Homo sapiens: one gene and its partners. The protein of the gene in region 1 interacts with the protein of each later gene in a pairwise test. Each region holds a gene or a part of one and is shown in the gene's direction. Other genes may lie near its edges. The genes, in order: RPAIN, GSTA1 and CLNK.

The links.
Region 2: the proteins of RPAIN (region 1) and GSTA1 interact in a two-hybrid assay, tested with the Homo sapiens proteins (one large-scale study listed by BioGRID and IntAct).
Region 3: the proteins of RPAIN (region 1) and CLNK interact in a two-hybrid assay, tested with the Homo sapiens proteins (one large-scale study listed by BioGRID and IntAct).

What each region holds. Positions count from the first base shown.
Region 1 is NC_000017.11:5,423,069-5,426,723, forward strand, and holds part of RPAIN (RPA-interacting protein), read left to right. Parts: intron 1-2,902; coding exon 2,903-3,014; intron 3,015-3,068; coding exon of another isoform or gene 3,069-3,139; exon of another isoform or gene 3,140-3,161; intron 3,162-3,167; coding exon 3,168-3,231; intron 3,232-3,655. UniProt on the Homo sapiens protein: Mediates the import of RPA complex into the nucleus, possibly via some interaction with importin beta.
Region 2 is NC_000006.12:52,797,314-52,800,968, reverse strand, and holds part of GSTA1 (glutathione S-transferase A1), read left to right. Parts: intron 1-1,671; 5' UTR 1,672-1,701; coding exon 1,702-1,788; intron 1,789-3,331; coding exon 3,332-3,383; intron 3,384-3,655. UniProt on the Homo sapiens protein: Glutathione S-transferase that catalyzes the nucleophilic attack of the sulfur atom of glutathione on the electrophilic groups of a wide range of exogenous and endogenous compounds.
Region 3 is NC_000004.12:10,678,157-10,681,811, reverse strand, and holds part of CLNK (cytokine-dependent hematopoietic cell linker), read left to right. Parts: intron 1-3,655. UniProt on the Homo sapiens protein: An adapter protein which plays a role in the regulation of immunoreceptor signaling, including PLC-gamma-mediated B-cell antigen receptor (BCR) signaling and FC-epsilon R1-mediated mast cell degranulation.

The sequences.
Region 1 (3,655 bases):
TGCCCTGTAAGATAGTAGTATTAGAACAGAAGGTGGTTGGTGTTCTCGTGCAGGTCATACAGCTAGTAAGTGGAGGAGATGGGAAGCAAAATCAGTTGTATGAATCCAGTTCCCATGTTTCTTCTACCATCCTGCCTCTCTATTAATGGGTTAATAGTTCACTGAGGGTGGTGGCTTATGCCTGTAATCCCAGCATTTTGAGAGGCTGAGGCAGGAGTATTGCTTGAGGCCAGTTCAAGACCAGCATGGGCAACATAACAAGATCCTGTCTCTACAGAAGTAAAAAAAAAAAAAAAAAAATTATCTGGGTGTGGTAGCAAATACTTGTAGCCTCCCTCAGCCAGAAGGCTTAGGCAGGAGGATCACTTGAACCCAAGAGTTTAAGGTTACAGTGAGCTATAATTTTACCACCTCACTCCAGCCTGGCTGACAGAGGGAGACCCTGTCACTTTAAAAAATAAAATAAAAAAAAGTAAACCTGCCATTTTACAGGATACAGTGATAGTGCATGGTCTGATCCCTTGCCCTATTCATTTTAAGTGCCACATTCTCTATTAACTCCCCAGGGCCTGTGAGCATCCACTCCTTGAGGGAGGTGTCCATAGCATGGTGTAGAGAGCATAATTTTGTACCTTATATAGTTAAGTCATTTATTCCATGTAGCCCTGATTTGATTAGGCCTTGTTTGGTTTTTGTTTTTGTTTTTTTTGAGACAGGGTCTCTGCCCAGGCTGGAATGCAGTGGCGTGATCACGGCCCACTGCAGCCTTGACCTCCTGGGCTTAAGCGATCTTCCCACCTCAGCCTTCTGAATAGCTGGGATCATAGGCGTGTGCCACCACCCCTGGCTAATTTTTTTTTATTAATTTTTTTTTTTTAGCTAAAGATGATAAAAACAAGACAAAAAATTATTTTATTTATGTATTTTTTTTTTTTTTGAGATAGGTTCTTGCTCTGTTGCCCAGGCTGGAGTGCAGTGATGTAATCATGGCTCACTGTGGCTTCATCCTCCTAGGCTCAACCAATCCTCTCATCTCAGCCTCCCGAGTAGCTGGGACCGCAAGTGTGCACCACCATACCGAGCTAATTTTTTTATTTTTTTGTAGAGACAGGGTCTCACTGTGTTGCCCAGGCTGGTCTCGAACTCCTCCCTGGTCTCAAGTGATCCCCCCACCTCAGCCTCCTAAAGTTTTGAGATTACAGGCATGAGCCAAAATGCCTAGCCTAATTTTTTAAATTTTTTTGTAGAGGCAGGGTCTCACTATGTTGCCTAGGCTGGTCTCAAACAGCTGGACTCAAACCATCCTCCTACTTCAGCCTCCCAAAGTGTTGGGATTACAGACATGAGGCATGGCCCCCAGCCTTAGGCTTCATTTTTATGACCTATAAAATGGAGAGAATACCCTATAAATTTGTTGTAAGGCTTAAATAACGTGTGTAGAAGACTTAGTGCATTGTCTGGCATATAGAGAGCTTTCAATAATCAACAGCTATTATTATGGTGAGGCAAGAGCACAAGCTCTTGAGTCATACCTCTAACATTCACTTGGCTTTACTACTTTAATTTGTGTGGCACCGACCAAAGCACTTAATTTCCCCGTGCCTCAGTTTCTTCACCTTTGAAATAAGGATAATAATAGTGAAGAAGTTAATATATGTAAGGAATTTAAAATAGCATTTGACACATAAGTGCCATGCAAGTGTTAGTTGTTAATGACTGTTGCTGTCGACTCTGGTTAGACTGTAAATTCCTTAAGTTATCATCTTTTTTTATTGATTTTCCCTTCCCCCACCTACAAAACCTATCTTAGTGGTGAAACATAAGCCTGACCAAATGTTTTATTTTGGGGCATACTTAACTAATAAGTCTGAAGTGACAAGGATTTACTGTGTTGTGCTGTACTCAGCCATAAGGAACATTCTAAAGCAGAAGTTGGCAGACTTTTTGTGAAGAGCCAGATAGCAAATACTTTAGACTTCACAGACCATGTGGTCTCTGGCACAATTTCTCAGCTCTGCAGTTCTAGTGGAAAAGCAGTTATAGACACTACATAAACAAATAAGCGTGACTGTAGTTTTTTGACCCCTTCCCTAATGTCTAGACTGTGAGCTCAACAATGACAGTCTTTTTCATCTTTGTGCCCCTGTGACTAGCAGATACTAGGTACTGTTGTATGTTTGCTGAATGAATGAGCACACAGATTCTGAACAACACAGATTCCAAGTATGTGGAATCAGCAGGGTCGTCCTGGCATCAGAAATCAGTTCTCTCTTTTTTTTTTTTTTGACACAGAGTCTCGCTCTGTCACTCAGGCTGGAGTGCAGTGGCGCAATCTCGGATCACTGCAACCTCCGCCTCCTGGGTTCAAGTGATTCTTCTGCCTCAGCCTCCCGAGTAGCTGGGATTATAGACGTGCGCCACATGCCTGGCTAATTTTTTGTGTTTGTTAGTAGAGATGGGTTTCACCATGTTGGCCAGGCTGGTTTCGAACTCCTGACCTCGAGTGATCTGCCTGCCTCAGCCTCCCAAAGTGTTGGGATTACAGGTGTGAGTCACCGTGCCCGGCCAGCAATCAGTTCTCTTTGTCAACTTTATTTAGTTGCCTGTGGGACCCTGACATTCTGTATCTGTGCTCCTATGGCCTCTGGAGATGTGTGTGAAAATTGTCTCCTCGGCCCTTAGCCTACTTCACCTCTTGTGCTCACAAAAAGGGGACAGAGAGGAGGGAGAGGAATCCAGCAAGATGAAGCCAGCCTGAGAGAGCATAAAAACCAGTCATTGGTATTGTGGTCTTGCCCAAATCTTTCCCTCGTGTGAAGGAAGCCTTTGACAGTGAAGTTTAGAATTAAATACAGGGCCAGCTGAAGCATGGTGAAGCCCTCCAACTGCCTTTGCCTTGCAGAGCAGTCCATCATCAGCGAGTATGAGAAGAGCTTGCAGTTTGATGAAAAGTGTCTCAGCATCATGCTGGCTGAGTGGGAGGCAAACCCACTCATCTGTCCTGTATGTACAAAGTAAGAGTTTTTAAAACCTTTTCAGCATTATTCGTTCCCATTCCCCACTCCAAGGTGAGTGGAATCTCCCCCCAGATTTGTTGCCTGAAATTCAAGGTTTGGAGATCCAGGTCTGGTGGCCATGATGCTCTGGGATCCTAATTCTGCTTCTAGGTACAACCTGAGAATCACAAGCGGTGTGGTGGTGTGTCAGTGTGGCCTGTCCATCCCATCTCATGTGAGTGTTCCACACACAGATTTCATGATACTTCTTCCCACATGGATCTACTTTCTTGAAGATCCTCCAGTGCTGACTTGGAGCCCATTGTGCATATTTCTTCCCAGTTTTATGTTCAGTGGTGTCACATTGGTAGCTTCAAATCAGCCATGGTGAGAATATCTATGGCATGAAAATTGGCAAACAGTACACATCAGAGCCTTTAGGGCCCTGGAGAGCCATCACCGCTTAACGTTTTTATGGAGACCTCAGCTTGGGATTGGTAACGCCTGTATCTGACGTTTCATAAAAATTTTCTATATATGAAGACATACCTAATTCAGAATTTAAGCTTCAGTAATTTTTTTTTTTTTTTTTTTGAGACGGAGTCTCACTCTGTTGCCCAGGCTGGAGTACAGTGGCGTGATTTAGGCTCACTGCAACC
Region 2 (3,655 bases), on another chromosome or scaffold:
CTGAGTTTGCAGTGAGCCAAGATCACGCCATTGCTCTCCAGCCTGGGCAAAAACAGTGAAACTCCATCTCAAAATTAATAATAAATAAATAAATACATTAGTTGTTAAAGGCAAGTATATTTTTGTTCCACACTCAACAACCACAAAACTTTGCAAGAAGAATCTTAATGTTAAATATCAGAGCTGGGGGTTTGGAGAGAAAACGCAACTGTTCCTAAGTCTTGGCACTGGAACTCCTGCTTTCAATGAGTCCTGTGCCCTTCCATTCACATTCATGATACAATTAGTTGCATCTGTCCCTGCAGCCACTGGTTTTCATTCTCTGATACTCTGCTATGTTCCACCTCCCAAACAGCCTGGGATAGAGCAAGGGCTATCAAACTTCACTGATGAGCCCAGTCAATTTCTCTCTAACCATTTACAATGAGCAAGTGAGCATGCACACGTGCAAACATCCGTACACACAATATACAAATAACTGAAACTAACAACTCATCAAACATTACTTACCTTTCAACATGTCATGCTCACTGACATTTTCTATTCTTTTCTATTTTATTTTTAAAAGTAATGGGCTTTCACAATCTACTGAAAGATTACCATGCATATTTCAGAAACACTAACATAGAAAATAAGACTCAGTCCTTGGTTTTTAACAGCAGTGAGTCTGCATCCCGATCCATCATTTACTCTGAGAAAGTTACTTTAAAAACCTCAGTATCCTCAAATGTAAAATGAGAATAACAACTGCATTCATCTTAGGTGATTTTTGTAGGATAAAACGAAGAGAAGTTTAGAAGAATGACCAGTGTGTAACTGATGTTGAACAAATGCTAGCTCCTTCCATATTGCAAAATTAATGCAGCAACATCTCTTCTTCCAGCTTATAAAACAAAATGCACCCCATAGAGTTAGAATACAGAATTACAAAAGCTGCAGGGATTAACAATCTCTGTCTGTTGATAGATTTTGGATCTTCTAGCTACAGTTAAACAAGTCTGAGGCCTAATTTCTGGTTTTGATCAAATGTAGTCTCACAGTCAAAGAGGTGAAGAGTGACTTAGCTCCCTGCCGGTCCTCCCTGTCAGTGACATCCTCTGGTTTCATGGCCAGTTCATGGGTTCCCAGGGCCTTCACCCAGCTGGCTTCCAGGAGTGACTTCATTTTAGTCCTTGGTGTAGATATTCATGTCCATCACCAACCGGAGTGTGACTGTGAACATTGTATTTCTCTGATGTTCCATTTCATTAACTAAAAAATTGAGATAACAATCATTTCACGGGACTATAAGGAGGGTTAAAGATATAAAATATTGAAAGGGACTAGCATTGAGGAAGGATCACTAGGAAGTTTTCAATAAATATTAGTTCTTGAATTCTTCCTCTTCCAATAACTCCTATACATGTATTTTTACCACATACTCTCACCTCTTATGCTGCCAAGAAAAGTCACAGTTAGCCAATGAAGACTTGAGACTGGTTTGCTGGAATCTGAGGGTGGCCACTGCTGGGTAACAATTTGAGCCAAGAAAACATTCCAGGAACTCCTCCAACACAGTCATGAAGAAGGAAGGTTCTTCTTCAGTATTGTTGGTGGTTTTCAACTACATATCCTAAAGTACATTTTTGATTCTATCGTTTCAATTATTCATTCATTCATTCATTCATTCAGGCTTAGAGAAACCTCCAGGAGACTGCTATCATGGCAGAGAAGCCCAAGCTCCACTACTTCAATGCACGGGGCAGAATGGAGTCCACCCGGTGGCTCCTGGCTGCAGCTGGAGTAGAGGTAGGTTCTGAGTTAGGTCATCTTAAGTTGGATTTAAAATTGTGTTATCACATACTTTTCCCACAGAAACTATGAGATGTTGCTTACTGAAGCATTGTGCCTTAAATAAAAATGGACTGTAATTAAGAAAAAGATGAACAGATTTGACCTATTAATTCTTAAAATTTCTTCTCATCTAAAAGCAAACATATTAAAATACAATTAAGACACTAATCACAAAGTGCAGAACTTAAGTGGATTAGAATTTAAACAAACTGTAAAGAATAATTTATAGCATTTATACAATTAGAAACATGAATATCGATTGAATATATGAAGACATGAAATAATTATTGTTAATATTTCATGTGTGATAATGTACTATGGCTGTCTTTAGAATAGTTAATGTGTTTTAGGAAAACACATTGAAGTATTTAAGGATTAATCATATGGATCTGGGATTTCCTTGGAATTATTACAAGAGGAGAAGTAGGTGGGCATATAGATGAAACCATATTGGTTTTGATTGATAATTATTGATTCTAGGTGAGAAGTATAAGGAGAATCATTATGCTTTTCTGTTTATATTTATTCATGTTCATAATTTCCACAATAAAAAAATAAAAATGCATAATATTAAAAAATGATTGTAATTAGAGGTAAAATGCAAACTACAAATGAGAGATGGAAGGGAGTGGATTGTAACAAACTACCTATTAAAGATTGACTACATTCACAGCAATTATTTACTTGAGCACTTATTAATTCCAGGTTCTGTACTCGGTCATGGAGATAGTGAACAAGACAGACACAGTCCCTGCCCTGGGGCAGCCTACGTGTCTATGAGGATGCAGAGAAATAAACACGTGGTTAAAATGAGGGGAGGAGGCTTCTAGAACACACAAGCATTCCCCAATGCCACAAAACCACATCAGAAACCAGAGGTTTTCCTTAAAAATAATGCTAGTGTGGGACCCTAATTCCTTTATTAAATTGAGAATTTTACCCTATTGTGCCTCGTACTTCAGAAGAGAAAATTACAGTTGCAAGTGTGAAAGCTGTGCAACAGTGGCGACCTATTTCACACTTAGCAGGGTTCCTGAGAAGTGGGGCGATACAAATTACAGCAGAGGCTCCTTGGTGGCAAAATGTTTGATAGCCATTAGCCCATGGCATGCCTCATGCTGGGGACACACAAGGTTGTGGTCTGATCTCACTTGGAGACACAGGCTTTCCTAAGATATGACAACACCATAACTAGAAGAACTGCTCAGTGCCTTTTCTCCAGTGATGTCCCCCTCAAAATATGACCTAATCATAGACATTCATATCAGGGTGGAGTTGAAGTGAACTAAAAGATTTAGCAGCTATGTGCTGTGACCCATGCACTTTTCTCAATGAATTAGGTCTAAATTTCCAAATGGCCATGACCAGCCCCCTCTGTGTACCCTGCCAAACTCAGAAATCTTGTATTCTCCAAATGATGCACCAGATGGGGCCATTCAAGGCCACAGTCTATAATAGAATGAACTAACAAGAACGTATTTACTGTTTCTGCTTCCAGTTTGAAGAGAAATTTATAAAATCTGCAGAAGATTTGGACAAGTTAAGAAATGGTAAGATCAATCTCTAAGTTCCTCTGATGAGGGTATCTAGTAGAAGGTACACGGGGAGGTTTGCGCAGCCGGCAATGTCTATGGGTGTGGGGCATGGTATTTGTACATGGTGCAGAGGGAGAAAGTGGTTAAAATGGAAGGGATGTGGCTCCTTGAGCAAGTCTGGCAACTCTCTCCAGGTTAAAAGGACCAGACCTCTCAGAGTATTTGCTAGAGGAACAATCTCCCACCGCTGAGAAAGCCCTTTCTTTGTTTTCATGCTTGGGGCACCA
Region 3 (3,655 bases), on another chromosome or scaffold:
AGACCCAGGTCCACCCGAGCCCCGAGCTCCTGCTCTCGGCATGGTGCTCCATGAGTACCCTGCTGATGTTCCCAGGTTCATGATCAGGGCATCAATCACTGTCTTCCAAACTAGTCAACAGCATTTAAGGAACTCCCAGATACACCACAAGCATTAGCAAAATATGTATTTTAGTTGTTTCTTTTAAATTTCATTGGTGATACTAATTGAAACACTGCTTCCTAAACACTTATGCATGAGAATCAAAATCCTATTGTGTTTAAATGGTACTGTGGTTTGTCATTTGAACTAAGATGAGCCAAAAGGTCTAGATACAACATGAAAATTTAATATCCATGTGATTGGATGATAATCTTTAACAGTGGTAGGTTCTGTGTTCAATTTCGTGTAAGATAAAGATAAGGGCTGACTAATAGCCTAGGCCCAAACTCTGAGAGGGCTGAATTTTTGTGGACTGCCTAAGGACCACATTTCACCATCAGTTTTGAAGACCCAGAAAGCTAATTGTATCCAAGGCACACAGAGTTGATGGAGCTCAAGAGGTCAGTTCACTCTGGTACTTTGACCTATGTATCCATCTTTGGTGATTTTGTTCAAGTGTACTCAAATTATAAGTTCAGATGATTGGCATATTCCCTCCCAGGAGACAAATGTACACAGGAAACTAAATTGATATTGGGCAGTAGCTTGTTGAGCACTAAGTCAGAGCTGTGTAATTTCAAAAGCTGGATTTGCTGAGCTATGGGTGGTCTGATGCCTTGGCAGGCACCTGGAAAGCCAGTCTGCCCCATGGTTACCTGTAGAAATTTATATATATATATATATCAGGACGTCCTCACTCATGGGCAAGTCTAGGGATCTCCCGATCAGCTTTATCTGTCTGGACTCTTTACACAGGACACCTCCACACAGTCCCCATCCCAAACTCCTACTTCTGATACATGCTGTTTTCACTATACCACGCCATCCAGTCGTTGAGACATGGATAGTGTGGGTTTGAAATCAGTTACTTCCTAGCAATATGGTTTTAGACAAGTTATTTAACTCCTCAGAACCTCTGTTTATCCTTTATAAAATGGAATAAAAATATCTACTGCTCGAATTTGTGGTGAGAAATGAGATTCAGTACATAAAAATGCATATCATGGTGACTAGTAATTATTAAATACAAAGTAAATGGTAGTGGCTATTATCATCATTCTTAGCATTATTATTATGAGTTTATTTTATATTTAAACAAACCTTCCTTAGATTCTTGGCCTTTGTCCCTTTTTTGTCTTCTTTTTTAATTATTATTATACTTTAAGTTTTAGGGTACATGTGCACAACGTGCAGGTTTGTTACATATGTATACATGTGACATGTTGGTGTGCTGCACCCATTAACTCATCATTTAGCATTAGGTATACCTCCTAATGCTATCCCTCCCCCCTCCCCCCAACCCACCACAGGCCCCAGTGTGTGATGTTCCCCTTCCTGCGTCCATGTGTTCTCATTCTTCAATTCCCACCTATGAGTGAGAACATGCGGTGTTTGGTTTATTGTCCTTGCGATAGCTTGCTGAGAATGATGGTTTCCAGCTTCATCCATGTCCCTACAAAGGACATGAACTCATCATTTTTTATGGCTGCATAGTATTCCATGATGTATATCTGCCACATTTTCTTCATCCAGTCTATCATTGTTGGACATTTAGGTTGGTTCCGAGTCTTTGTTATTGTGAATAGTGCCGCAATAAACATACGTGTGCATGTGTCTTTATAGCAGCATGATTTATAATCCTTTGGGTATATATCCAGTAATGAGATGGCTGGGTCAAATGGTATTTCTAGTTCTAGATCCCTGAGGAATCACCACACTGACTTCCACAATAGTTGAACTAGTTTACAGTCCCACCAACAGTGTAAAAGTGTTCCTATTTCTCCACATCCTCTCCAGCACCTGTTGTTTCCTGACTTTTTAATGATCGCCATTCTAACTGGTGTGAGATGGTATCTCATTGTGGTTTTGATTTGCATTTCTCTGATGGCCAGTGATGATGAGCATATTTTCATGTGTTTTTTGGCTGCATAAATGTCTTCTTTTGAGAAGTGTCTGTTCATATCCTTTGCCCACTTTTTGATGGGGTTGTTTGTTTTTTTTCTTGTAAATTTGTTTGAGTTCATTGTAGATTCTGGATATTAGCCCTTTGTCAGATGAGTAGATTGCAAAAATTTTCTCCTATTCTGTAGGTTGCCTGTTCACTCTGATGGTAGTTTCTTTTGCAGTGCAGGAGCTCTTTAGTTTAATTAGATCCCATTTGTCAATTTTGGCTTTTGTTGCCATGCTTTTGATGTTTTAGACATGAAGTCCTTGCCCATGCCTATGTCCTGAATGGTATTGCCTAGGTTTTCTTCTAGGGTTTTTATGGTTTTAGGTCTAACATGTAAGTCTTTCATCCATCTTGAATTAATTTTTGTGTAAGGTGTAAGGAAGGGATCCAGTTTCAGCTTTCTACATATGGCTAGCCAGTTTTCCCAGCACCATTTATTAAATATGGAATCCTTTCCCCATTTCTTGTTTTTGTCAGGTTTGTCAAAGATCAGATAGTTGTAGATATGTGGCATTATTTCTGAGGGCTCTGTTCTGTTCCATTGGTCTATATCTCTGTTTTGGTACCAGTACCATGCTGTTTTGGTTGCTGCAGCCTTGTAGTATAGTTTGAAGTCAGGTAGTCTGATGCCTCCAGCTTTGTTCTTTAGGCTTAGGATTGAGTTGGCAATGCACGCTCTTGTTTGCTTCCATATGAACTTTAAAGTAGTTTTTTTTCCAATTCAGTGAAAAAAGTCATTGGTAGCTTGATGGGGATGGCATTGAATCTATAAATTACCTTGGGCAGTATGGCCATTTTCACGATATTGATTCCTCCTACCCATGAGCATGGAATGTTCTTCCATTTGTTTGTATACTCTTTTATTTCATTGAGCAGTGGTTTGTAGTTCTCCTTGAAGAGGTCCTTCACATCCCTTGTAAGTATTTTATTTTCTTTGAGGCAATTGTGAATGGGAGTTCACTCATGATTTGGCTCTCTGTTTGTCTGTTATTGGTGTATAAGAATGCTAGTGATTTTTGCACATTGATTTTGTATCCTGAGACTTTGCTGAAGTTGCCTATCAGCTTAAGGAGATTTTGGGCTGAGATGATGGGGTTTTCTAGATATTTGACCTGAAGAAGTTCTATTTTAAGGTGATTTCTACAGAAACTAATTTCATCATATTCTTATTTATTTTTTATTATTCATCTATCAAAGCCTTGGGTGTCTTACAATTCCTCAAATGTGCTAATCCTCTGAAAATATTAAGATTTAATGAAAAATAATAGAAATTATTTTGGAATACCTTCCTAGCCAAATTTCAAATCCTCAGAGTTTTTCACGGCACTGATGCAAAGAAATTACTCAGTAATTATCTGTGGAACTATTCTTGCATAGCGGTTTATACTTTACAGAGTGCTTTCACTTTCATCATCTTACTTGGTCTTCAAAATAATCCTATGAGCAAAGAAGGATGAGCACTCATAGCCTCATCTTTCAGATTAGAGAAGCTGAGACTCAAGTTGTACAATTCACTGTATAATTCAGCATACCTGGGTTGAAAGATTTGTCTCCCATCTTGCT